Homo sapiens: one gene and its partners. The protein of the gene in region 1 purifies or fractionates together with the protein of each later gene. This does not show direct contact. Each region holds a gene or a part of one and is shown in the gene's direction. Other genes may lie near its edges.

Region 1 (3,500 bases):
CCCTGTGTGTTTCCTCTTCTGATCTTGCTTTCTTATGACCTTGGTCCATTTCCCAGTTGTCTTGTTGCCTGCATAATTCTAAGCCTGAAGCCTAGGAGAGGTCTGAATCCGATGTCTCCATAACTCTGGGTTCCTTCTCCCACAGGTGGATGAAACTCAGTTTAAGAAGATCCTCGGCTACATCAACACGGGGAAGCAAGAGGGGGCGAAGCTGCTGTGTGGTGGGGGCATTGCTGCTGACCGTGGTTACTTCATCCAGCCCACTGTGTTTGGAGATGTGCAGGATGGCATGACCATCGCCAAGGAGGAGGTGAGCACTTGGGGCCAGTGCTCTGGAAACATTCTTGGCGGGAGGTGAGGTAAACAGTTCAGCCTGGCATCCTGATGCTGTCACCCATCTGCTGGCTTGGGGCCAGATCTCAAGTTATACCCAGAACCAGTGCCCATAACACGCTATTCATAGTATGTATCTGATCTTGTCCCTCCTCTTCAGCTTGTACCCTCTGTCTGGGAGATCGTCTGCATTCCTCAGCATGGCCTGCAGGCCTTGGTGTCCTGGCCCTCAGAGCCAGGAGTCTAGGAATGACATTGTCTGCTCCTTCCCATGACCTTTTTTCTTTCAGTCAGATTCTTGCTCTGTTGCCCAGGCTGGAGTGCAGTGGCATAATCATGGCTCCTTATAGCCTTGAACTCTTGGGCTCAAATGATCCTCCCACCTCAGCCTTCTGAGTAGCTGGGACTACAGGTGCTCACCACCATGCCTGGCTAATTTTAAAAAAATTTTTTAGTACAGGCTGGGTGCAGTTGCTCACGCCTGTAATCCCAACACTTTGGGAGGCCGAAGTGGGTGGATCACCTGAGGTCATGAGTTCGAGACCAGCCTGGCCAACATGGCAAAACCCTGTCTGTATTAAAAATAAGAAAAAATTAGCCCTGCGTGGTGGCGCTTGCTTGAAATCCCAGCTACTCTGGAGGCTGAGGCAGGAGAATCGCTTGAACCTGGGAGGCAGAGGTTTCAGTGAGCCGAGATCGCGCCACTGCACTCCAGCCTAGGCAACAGAGCGGGACTCTGTCTCCAGTTTTAGCCACGCCTGGCTAATTTTTGTATTTTTAGTAAAGACAGGGTTTCACCATGTTGATCAGACTAGTCTCGAACTCCTGACTTCGTGATCTGCCTGCCTCGGCCTCCCAAAGTGCTGGGATTACAGGCATGAGCCACCACGCCCGGCTTATTTTTTCTCTTCTCGTTTTGAGATGGAGTCTCACTCTGTCGCCAGGCTGGAGTGCAGTGGTGCAATCTCAGCTCACTGCAACCTCTGCCTCCCGGGTTCAAGCGATTCTCCTGCCTCAGACCCTACTAGTAGCTGGGATTACAGGCGCACACCACCACGCCCAGCTAATTTTTCTTATTTTCAGTAGAGATGGGGTTTCACCATGTTGGCCAGGCTTGTCTCCAACTCCTGACCTCAGGTGATCCACCTGCCTCAGCCTCCCAAAATGCTGGGATTACAGGTGTGAGCCATCGTGCCTGGCCAAAAATTTTTTTTTTTTTTTTGAGTAAAGACAGGGTCTCTCTGTGTTTGCCAGGCTGGACTCGAACTCCTAGACTCAAGCAGTTCTCCCACCTTGGCCTCCCAAAGTGCTGGGATTACAGGCATGAGCCACAATGCCCAGCTGACTTAAATTCTTTGACACTAAATCTACGTGTCACGTGTGAATAACATACCTGGCAGGATTGTTTAGAAATGGGATACTGTATGTAAAGCCCGGGGCGCACAGGAGGAAGTTGGCCCCTGTTAGCTCCATTCCCTCTGTGTTCTGCTGAGCTTGATGGCTGTTGTCTTCCCCTGGAACTGTTAGAGCATGGCTGGGGGCTTATCCCCCAATCTGGAATCATCTGTTCTGCTCTGAGAGAGCTCGATGGCAGGTGCCTCCGTGTTGCCGAACCCTCCTACGCTGCTCTCTCACTCCAGATCTTCGGGCCAGTGATGCAGATCCTGAAGTTCAAGACCATAGAGGAGGTTGTTGGGAGAGCCAACAATTCCACGTACGGGCTGGCCGCAGCTGTCTTCACAAAGGATTTGGACAAGGCCAATTACCTGTCCCAGGCCCTCCAGGCGGGCACTGTGTGGTAAGAGCCTCCCAGCAGCCCCTCACAACCCAACAGAGATTCCTCAAAGCCAGGGCCTACTGGAATCTGGTGGTCACCATCCTGGAATTTGGGGAGCTGGGCTCAGTTTCTCCTGGGTCAGGGTGTGATGTCGATTTGAGAGGTCCTGCTACCTCACCTCCGAAGGATCAAGCTTCTCTGTGGTGCAAAGGCCCTGCACCTGAACTTGGCAGGCAGCGGAGTGGTGGGGCTCCTCCCCAGCTGCCTCAGGGCAGGAGACCAGAGCAGAGGGACCCATGATTGTGACACTGATCCTAAAAGCTTAGCCTCTGCTTCACACTTAGCCCCCACTAGGATGGCTATATTTTTATTATTTATTTATTTTTAGTTTTATTTTTTCAGACAGAAAAAAATATTCTACCCAGGCTGAAGTGCTGTGGGGTGCGATTATAGCTCACTGCAGCCTTGAACTCCTGGGCTCAAGCAATCCTCCCACCTCTGCCTCCTGAGTAGCTGGGACCACAGGTGTGTACCACCACACCTGGACAATTAAAAAACATTTTTATTTTTTGTAGAGATGAGATCTCGCCATGTTGCCCAGGCTGGGCTATATGTATATATATTTTAAAGTATTGGTAAGGATGTGGAGAAATCGGAACCCTCCTATGTTGCTGATGGGAATGGAAAATGGCACACTCATTGTGGAAAATAATTTGGGAGCTCCTCAAAAAGTTAAACATGAAGCCCCCATATGACCCAGCAATTCCACTCCTAGGTATTTATCCAAGAGAAAGAAAAACGTGCTCCCACATAAAAACGTGTATATGAATCTTCACAGCAGCATTATTTGTAACAGCCAAAAGGTGAACACAACCCAAATGTCCGTCTGTAGATGAATGGATACAGAATGTGATCTGTCCATGCAATGAAATGTGGCTCAGCCACAGAAAGGAATGAAGTAGCTGTATGAGTCTGTTCTCACACTGCTGGTAAAGACATTGCAGAGACCGGGTAATTTATAAAGGAAAGAGGTTTAATGGACTCACACAGTTCCACGTGGCTGGGGAGGCCTCACAATCATGGTGAAAGGTGAAAAGCATGTCTCACGTGGTGGCAGACAAGAGAAGAGAACTTGTGCAGGGAAACTCCCCTTTATAAAACCATCAGATCTTGTGAGACTTACTCACTGTCACAAGAATAGCATGGGAAAGACCTGGCCCCATGATTCAATTACCTCCCACAACACGTGGGAATTGTGGGAGCTACAATTCAAGATGAGATTTGGGTGGGGACAAAGCCAAGCCATATCAGTAGCCATGCATGCAATAGCATGGATTAATCTTGAACATAACATTGAGTGAAAGAACCCAGACTGTCTGGGTGCGGTGGC
Region 2 (2,993 bases), on another chromosome or scaffold:
ATACTATTTTCATAAAAAATAATAAATAGATATGAAGAAATGAAGAATAATTTATAAAGATAGTAGGGATTTTATCATGTTCTTTATTTCAACTAAGTTCTTTGAAACTGGAAGTGGATAATACCAAGTTCATGCCTAAAATTAGCCCTTCTAAAGAAATCCACCTGCTGCAAAATATCCAGTAGTTTGGCATTATATGTGAAACTATCACCATCATAGCTGGCACTGTGGGTTGTGGGATCTCCTTTAGACATACAACATAAATGATCTGGATGGATTAACATTACTACATGGATGCTTGTTGACACATTAACCTGGCTTCCCATGAGCTTTGTGTCAGATACACGCAGTGAACAGGTGTTTGGAGGAACAGAATAAAGAGAAGGCAAGCACTGGTAAGGGCAGGGGTTTGTGAAAGCTTGAGAGAAGAGACCAGTCTGAGGACAGTAGACACTTATTTTAGGATGGGGGTTGGATGAGGAGGCTATAGTTTGCTATAAGCTTGGAATGGTTTGGAACACTGGTTTCACTCACCTACCCAGCAGTTATGTGTGGGGAAGCCTTACCGATGCTAAAGGATCCATGTTACAATAATGGCATTATTTGGAAATCCCAGTGGTATTCCATGAATAAAACCACTATGAAGATAATCCCACTCAACAGACTCTCCGTTGGAGAAGGACAGCAACACCACCCTGGGAAAGCCAAACAGTCAGACCAGACCTGTTTAGCATCAGTAGGACTTCCCTACCATATCTGCTGGGTAGATGAGTGAAACCAGTGTTCCAAACCACTCCGGGCTTGTAGCAAACCATAGTCTCCTCATCTACCAAGATGAGCAACCTTACCTCCTGATGTCCTAGCCAATCACCAACTAGGAAACTTTGCACAGTTTATTTAAAGTAACAGTTTGATTTTCACAATATTTTTAAATTGGAGAAACATAACTTATCTTTGCACTCACAAACCACATAATGAGAAGAAACTCTAAGGGAAAATGCTTGATCTGTGTGACCCGGGGCGCCATGCCAGAGCTGTAGTTCATGCCAGTGTTGTGCTCTGACAAGCCTTTTACAGAATTACATGAGATCTGCTTCCCTAGGACAAGGAGAAGGCAAATCAACAGAGGCTGCACTTTAAAATGGAGACATAAAATAACATGCCAGAACCATTTCCTAAAGCTCCTCAATCAACCAACAAAATTGTGCTTTCAAATAACCTGAGTTGACCTCATCAGGAATTTTGTGGCTCCTTCTCTTCTAACCTGCCTGAAGAAAGATGGTCCACAGCAGCTGAGTCCGGGATGGATAAGCTTAGGGACAGAGGCCAATTAGGGAACTTTGGGTTTCTAGCCCTACTAGTAGTGAATAAATTTAAAGTGTGGATGTGACTATGAGTCACAGCACAGATGTTGTTTAATAATATGTTTATTTTATAAATTGATATTTTAGGAATCTTTGGAGATATTTTCAGTTAGCAGATAATACTATAAATTTTATGTAACTGGCAATGCACTTCGTAATAGACAGCTCTTCATAGACTTGCAGAGGTAAAAAGATTCCAGAATAATGATATGTACATCTACGACTTGTTTTAGGTGGCACTTACTCAAAAGCATCTACTCCTAATGGTTATGATAATGGCATTATTTGGGCCACTTGGAAAACCCGGTGGTATTCCATGAAGAAAACCACTATGAAGATAATCCCATTCAACAGACTCACAATTGGAGAAGGACAGCAACACCACCTGGGGGGAGCCAAACAGGTCAGACCAGAGCACCCTGCGGAAACAGAATATGACTCACTTTACCCTGAGGATGATTTGTAGAAAATTAACTGCTAACTTCTATTGACCCACAAAGTTTCAGAAATTCTCTGAAAGTTTCTTCCTTTTTTCTCTTACTATATTTATTGATTTCAAGTCTTCTATTAAGGACATTTAGCCTTCAATGGAAATTAAAACTCATTTAGGACTGTATTTCCAAATTACTGATATCAGAGTTATTTAAAAATTGTTTATTTGAGGAGATAACATTTCAACTTTGTTCCTAAATATATAATAATAAAATGATTGACTTTATTTGCATTTTTATGACCACTTGTCATTTATTTTGTCTTCGTAAATTATTTTCATTATATCAAATATTTTAGTATGTACTTAATAAAATAGGAGAACATTTTAGAGTTTCAAATTCCCAGGTATTTTCCTTGTTTATTACCCCTAAATCATTCCTATTTAATTCTTCTTTTTAAATGGAGAAAATTATGTCTTTTTAATATGGTTTTTGTTTTGTTATATATTCACAGGCTGGAGACGTTTAAAAGACCGTTTCAAAAGAGATTTACTTTTTTAAAGGACTTTATCTGAACAGAGAGATATAATATTTTTCCTATTGGACAATGGACTTGCAAAGCTTCACTTCATTTTAAGAGCAAAAGACCCCATGTTGAAAACTCCATAACAGTTTTATGCTGATGATAATTTATCTACATGCATTTCAATAAACCTTTTGTTTCCTAAGACTAGATACATGGTACCTTTATTGACCATTAAAAACCACCACTTTTTGCCAATTTACCAATTACAATTGGGCAACCATCAGTAGTAATTGAGTCCTCATTTTATGCTAAATGTTATGCCTAACTCTTTGGGAGTTACAAAGGAAATAGCAATTATGGCTTTTGCCCTCTAGGAGATACAGGACAAATACAGGAAAATACAGCAACCCAAACTGACAATACTCTATACAAGAACATAATCACTAAGCAGGAGTCACAGCCACACAACCAAGATGCATAGTATCCAAAGTGCAGCTGGAGACAGGAAAGCTGCTTGGGGAGTCTCCCAGCAGAACCTTTTAGCTCCAAACACCTGTGGTGGGACCTGGTCACTCTGAAAGGACTGCAACTCAGAGCAGAGAGCTTTAGGGAGCTATTTGCCCTATCTCTCACTAGTCATGAGGTGAGCTGAATGGAACCATCTCTTCCTTC
Region 3 (2,558 bases), on another chromosome or scaffold:
ACATGGAGGAGGTGCCCCTGGCGCTCACTGCCCAGGTCCCTGGCCTGCGCTCTCTGGATGAGGTGAGTTGGGGAAGCCCTTTTGCTGGAGATCGGGGGCCTCCTTCAGGCATACCTGGAGGCTTTATCCTTCTCCTTTGGCAGTTAACGGGCCTGTCCCCTCTTGACCTCAGGTTTACCCAGACCCTGTGCGGGTGGTATCAGTGGGGGTGCCCGTGGCCCATGCATTGGACCCAGCCTCCCAAGCCGCACTGCAGACCTCTGTGGAGCTATGCTGTGGGACGTGAGTCACTCCTTTGTGCTGCCTGGCCCAGGGGCCCCGGATCCTTGCCCTTCCCTTGGTCTTTGGAGCCATCAGCCCTTAATGGGAGATGCACGCTGGCTTCTCCCTTCTCTACTGTCATGCCCCGACTTTCTGTTCACTCCTTCCTCCCACAGGCACCTGTTACGTACTGGGGCTGTAGGGGACCTGGTTATCATCGGGGACCGCCAGCTTTCCAAGGGCACTACCCGCCTGCTGGCCGTCACTGGGGAGCAGGCCCAGCAGGTCAGCATGCCAGTAGGCCTGGGACTTCTGGGTTGAGTGGGTGCATGGGACACACGCAGGTGACATGCTCAGGCTCAGGGGTGCCCAGCAGCAGAGCCAGTGTTCATACTTGGACACCAATGTGGCCATATCAGCTATTGGCAGCTGGCATGTGTTTTGATTATTTGGTGCTGGTGCCTTGATTGGTCCTGATTGTTAAATCTTATTTGTCCCTGACCAGTAATGAGTTGAGAGGCCTTGTCCTGGGGAGATGAATGTAATCCTGACCCTCCTGTCCCCTCCCTGCAGGCCCGAGAGCTAGGCCAGAGCCTGGCCCAGGAAGTGAAAGCGGCCACTGAGCGGCTGAGTCTGGGGAGCCGGGATGTGGCGGAGGCACTGAGGCTGTCCAAGGACATAGGACGACTCATTGAAGTGAGGGCCACGCCTACCACCCCACCCTCTCCTAGCCCTATTACCTCCCCTATTCCTCCCTGGACTCCTTCAGACTCTCCCTAGCACTCCAATTGGGTTGGGCTCCAGCTGGCCCAGATATTTGTCTGCAGGGTGGGTGTCTTCCCTGGCCCTGCTGGTCCCTACCTCAGAGACTATGGCTCAGGGAAGGGCAGGGGTGATGTACTGCTTCTGGCCATAGGCTGTGGAAACTGCTGTGATGCCCCAGTGGCAGCGGCGGGAGCTGCTGGCCACAGTGAAGATGCTGCAGCGGCGTGCCAACACTGCCATCCGTAAGCTGCAAATGGGACAGGTGAGAGGAGGTTTGGCTGCACCCATGTGCCCAGAGACACTCCAGCAGATACACTGAGAAGTCTCAAGGGCTGGGGCATGGGGGTGAGTCAGAGGCTGTGCAAGGACGGGGTGGTGGCAGCTTCCTTCTCCTGCCAGCTGAGAACCATCACCCAGGCCATTCCCCCACTTCTGTCTCTTTCAAACTGTGTTTCTCCCCCAACTCCCAAGTCTGGCTCAGAACCCCCGGAAGCCTACTGACTTGATTAGTGCCATTCAGCCCTGATTGCACCTCCACTGTGGATCCCCCTTTCTCCCGCCCACTCCTGGTCCATCTGTGCTCTGACCTTCCTCCTTTCACCTTCAGCGACCTATTTGTAGGGGCCTGAAGCTATGATGAAAGGGAAGTGGTGAGGGAAGTGAGGAAGGACACATGTGGGACCCAAAAAGGAGGCCACCCTAGGCAGAGTCCCTGCCACCTCTGCCTAGAGCTAATGACTTTTGGGGTGGGTGGGGGAAGCAGGGGATTGCTCAGCTGGGGCTTAGTTCAGAAGTTGGGGCTAATTGGAAACCTGCCTCTCAGCCTGACCCCTCTGCTTGTCCTTCCTGCCCCATAGGCTGCAAAGAAAACTCAGGAGCTGCTGGAGCGGCACTCGAAGGGGCCTCTGATTGTGGACACAGTCTCTGCTGAGTCTCTCTCAGTGAGTGCTAGCCAAGCCGGGCTGCCCCAGGGTCTGGGGAGGGCAAAGTCCTGACCAGGAGACAGCTAGGGGTCTGGGAAGCGATGGGCTCACCATCTGTCTTTCGTGGTCCAGGTGCTGGTGAAGGTGGTACGGCAGCTGTGTGAGCAGGCCCCCAGCACGTCTGTGCTCCTACTCAGCCCCCAGCCCATGGGGAAGGTGCTGTGTGCCTGTCAGGTGGCCCAGGTGAGGGAAGTGGGAGAGCAGCCCACCGCCCCCATTAATACCCATCCTGGTCCAGCTCTCTGATTTTACACCTTTAATTCCTCCCAAAGGGGCCAAGGCTGGGTGGAAGTATCTATGAGGATACTCCAGGACAGGGATGGGGAATCTCCTTGTTCCTGAAAACAGCCCCTCCCCACCCCAGAAGGCACCAAGAGATTCCTTAATTCCTAACCCCTCCCAGGCCTCACATCCCTTGTAAACAAGTAGCAGATGTTCACGTTCATACACCTCCCCACACACATTTCCAGCCCAAACCTTCTCCGGCTCATCACCTGACTGCCCCACCATGTGCCCAGCTGGGAAGGGGGCACTGATGACCTTCAGCTC
Region 4 (3,335 bases), on another chromosome or scaffold:
ATACTGTGGCCTGTTTCTTGGTATTCCGCCTCTCTTTGTGGTAATGTGCTTTGTTGGTTCTTACCCTTTCCGACCTGTAAATGCCTGGGCTCTTGGGACTCAGTACCAGACCTCTTCTCTCCCCTTGCTGTGCTCCCTGGGTGACTTACATACTCTTACGGGCTTAGTGGCATCCACACACAAGTCTCAGCTTCAAACTCGGATCTTCCGAGTTCCAGTCCCCTAAATCTTACTGCTTGCTTGACATCTGGGCTTGGATGTCTCAAGGGTATTTTCCCCTCTACTGCACTCCTTTCTTCACATTTTAGTGAATTCTAAATTTAGTAAATTCTGGGTCTCATCCCACAAGTAGCTTTTGAGAGTTTTGTGTTGTTTTTTAAAGTTATTGAGCCATTGGAATTCTGAGGCGATTGATTTGACAAGTTACTAAATAGCCTCCACATCAGGTCAGCAGTGCTCAGTTTGGAATTGCCCTGTGCGGTTGGTATGGAGTGCAAATGATCTTCTTTAACTTCATCCAGGCATTCAAGCCTTCTGCAAGGACTTGTTGGAGGTGGCAGACGTTCTGGAGAAGGCAACACAGTGTGTTCCAAAAGAAGAAATTAAAGACGATAACCCTCACCTGAAGAACCTCTATGAGGGGCTGGTCATGACTGAAGTCCAGATCCAGAAGGTGTTCACAAAGCATGGCTTGCTCAAGTTGAACCCTGTCGGAGCCAAGTTCGACCCTTATGAACATGAGGCCTTGTTCCACACACCGGTTGAGGGGAAGGAGCCAGGCACAGTGGCCCTAGTTAGCAAAGTGGGGTACAAGCTGCATGGGCGCACTCTGAGACCCGCCCTGGTGGGGGTGGTGAAGGAAGCTTAGCTGCTGTTGATGGGGTGGGTGTTTTTAAACTCACTTGATGTAACTCTCAAGGCTGGTTCATTGTTTCTCATCTATGAGTACGTGTGACCTTTTCCCAAACCTTATTGGAAACCTTAAGTAACCAGTGGCTAAACAGAAAAGCCGGTTGCCCAACTGCATTAATGAACTCTAATTCGGGAGTCTGTTCCCTTTTAGTGCCACGCGTTGAATAGTTCCACATACTTTCAGAAGAGCTCAGCAGGGCCCTGCCTGGTCTCCCGAGCATCATGAGTAACGTGTCTGCTCAGACTCTGCTGACACCAAAGTATTTTAAACAAATAAAAGGTCTTGGGGAATTCTGTTTGGCTACCTGGGCACGCCAGTCTGCACCATGTGTCCCTGCGGCGCATGAGTGACTGGCGTATTTAGCCCGTCACATTTCATTCGCTGAAGGAAAGGCAAGAGAGTTGAAACATTTTTCTTACTTAAAAAAAATGATCTTTGTGAAGAACATAGTGAGTTCGTTTGTCTTCAGTCAACAGCGGCTGAAACTGACCACTGAGAAATGGGTGTGGGCACTGACAGTTCTCCCCCATTATTTGGCCAGGAATTGAGCTTGGCTTGGCAAAGTTCCTTTTACCCTGTTCTGTTCATCTAAATGCAGACATATTTAAATCATATTCAACTAGTTACTAATGACCTCAAGTTGTATTCCCTGGCAAAATGGACTTTCTCAAAATAGGACTGCACGCTTGGTGTACTTTAAATGTTAATGTTTAATTTAAAATTTTTATTTAAGAGGATTAAAGCCCTAATGTTTATTTTCCTACTTTCTGAAAACAATTTTGTGTCCTCTCATGGAGATCCTTGCCGCTGAGGCAAGCATGGCTTAGCCTTCCCATTCTCTACTCCAGCCCAGAAGCTGTCAGCTTGACACGTGCGTGCGTGCACATTCACGTACACACATATACAGGCTTCTACACAGAAAGGGAGAGCCACACTCCCCCAGTGCAGCTGCAGCCCGTCCGGTAAGAATACGAAACACCCAGGAGCCACAGCAAGGGCACAGGATTTGCAAAATCATCTTGCCAAAGGGCTGTTCCTCATTTACACGGTCATCCAGGGCTTAGAAAAAGGCTGAATGATTGGCGTCTGTTACAAAAAAGAGAAAAGAACCTTTCGCTGCCTTTGCTTCTAGAATGGAAGATACTTGTGAAAGCCATTTGCTGCACAGGAAAGATGGGGCAGTTTATTTCACTTCTAATTTTAAAAGACGCAAGTAATGGTCCCATAATACTTCATCTTGGGATACCATTCCCAAACATGTTCCACCTTTAAGATGCCTTAAGTTAATTTGGTCAGAAACAACTAAAGGCAGCATCGTGTATTGAAGAAAACATGACTGGGAGCTCCAGCGCTGCCTGTTTTCACGCTGTGGGGTTGTGAGTGCATCATCACCCCTGGAGCTCCCGAGTTAAATGGAGGCTAAGAAAAGTAATTTATCAACTCATTTCTGTGAATGTTTGCAGTCTCCTACCGTCTCAACTACAGCTGCAGTTGCTAAAAAGCACTTAACTCGTAACCTAGAGGCAATATAGCTTAAGTAGCAAAATATTTTTTTACAGTAAGCTTCAGTCATCCATAGTCACTATAAGTTGGTTATCATCTGAAATGCTTAGAACCAGAATTGTTTCAAACTTGGGGGGTTTTCGGATTTTGGAATATAGTCAAGCATGGCTTAACCACAGGGATGTGTTCTGAGAAATGCGCTGTCAGGCAGTTTTTCCTGTGAACACCATGTGTACCTACATGGACCTAAAAAACAGGTGGTGGAGCCTCCTCCACACCTAGGCTATATGGTGTATGTAGCCTGTTGCTCTAGACTGGAGGGCACGTTACTGTACTGATACTGTAGGCAACTGTTAACACAATGGTATCTGTGTATCTGAACATAACATAGTAAAGGTACAGTGCAAACTGTGTTCTAATATGTGGCCCCTCATTGACTGAAAAGAGATTCTCTGCTTGACTATTTGCATTGTATTTGCTGGTTAAGTATCCCCAATCCCAAAATCCAAAATGCTCTAAATGAGCATCTCCTTTGAGCACCATGTAGGCACTCAGAAAGTTTCAGATTTTGCAGCCTTTCAGATTTGGGGATACTCAACCTGTAATAGGAAAATGTCTTTTAATTATGTGCATATTTACAGTAGGAATTAAAGATTTGTTTAGCTACCTTCTAGTAGTTACTGGATTTAGCATAACTGCAGCATGAGTGAAGTGTCACGTGTGAACAGTGAAAACCAGAACTGGAAGTCTCAGAGGCATCTGAAAAGTCGGCCTGGCTTCCTGAAAGACTCAGACCCATTTGGCTTTCTCTGGCTGTACTGCTGCTTTGAGGGAGGAGAGCACCTGGCACGAAAGGGTCTCTGCTTAAGAGAAAGCAACTTTAGGTCGGGTGCAGTGGCTCACGCCTGTAATCCCAGCA

What was found.
Region 2: the proteins of ALDH2 (region 1) and FGG purify together in Homo sapiens (affinity purification with mass spectrometry; 3 studies listed by BioGRID and IntAct, with this or other methods). This does not show direct contact.
Region 3: the proteins of ALDH2 (region 1) and AARS2 fractionate together in Homo sapiens (co-fractionation; one large-scale study listed by BioGRID). This does not show direct contact.
Region 4: the proteins of ALDH2 (region 1) and GRPEL1 fractionate together in Homo sapiens (co-fractionation; one large-scale study listed by BioGRID). This does not show direct contact.

What each region holds. Positions count from the first base shown.
Region 1 is NC_000012.12:111,797,933-111,801,432, forward strand, and holds part of ALDH2 (aldehyde dehydrogenase, mitochondrial isoform 1 precursor), read left to right. Parts: intron 1-145; coding exon 146-310; intron 311-1,901; exon of another isoform or gene 1,902-1,973; coding exon 1,974-2,131; intron 2,132-3,500. UniProt on the Homo sapiens protein: Required for clearance of cellular formaldehyde, a cytotoxic and carcinogenic metabolite that induces DNA damage.
Region 2 is NC_000004.12:154,603,671-154,606,663, reverse strand, and holds the end of FGG (fibrinogen gamma chain isoform gamma-B precursor), read left to right. Parts: intron 1-1,597; coding exon 1,598-1,830; 3' UTR 1,831-2,309; coding exon of another isoform or gene 2,310-2,324; 3' UTR 2,325-2,493; downstream 2,494-2,993. UniProt on the Homo sapiens protein: Together with fibrinogen alpha (FGA) and fibrinogen beta (FGB), polymerizes to form an insoluble fibrin matrix. Has a major function in hemostasis as one of the primary components of blood clots.
Region 3 is NC_000006.12:44,300,790-44,303,347, reverse strand, and holds part of AARS2 (alanine--tRNA ligase, mitochondrial), read left to right. Parts: coding exon 1-62; intron 63-172; coding exon 173-282; intron 283-437; coding exon 438-546; intron 547-834; coding exon 835-957; intron 958-1,177; coding exon 1,178-1,288; intron 1,289-1,883; coding exon 1,884-1,967; intron 1,968-2,081; coding exon 2,082-2,192; intron 2,193-2,558. UniProt on the Homo sapiens protein: Catalyzes the attachment of alanine to tRNA(Ala) in a two-step reaction: alanine is first activated by ATP to form Ala-AMP and then transferred to the acceptor end of tRNA(Ala). Also edits incorrectly charged tRNA(Ala) via its editing domain.
Region 4 is NC_000004.12:7,058,395-7,061,729, reverse strand, and holds the end of GRPEL1 (grpE protein homolog 1, mitochondrial precursor), read left to right. Parts: intron 1-521; coding exon 522-868; 3' UTR 869-2,835; downstream 2,836-3,335. UniProt on the Homo sapiens protein: Essential component of the PAM complex, a complex required for the translocation of transit peptide-containing proteins from the inner membrane into the mitochondrial matrix in an ATP-dependent manner.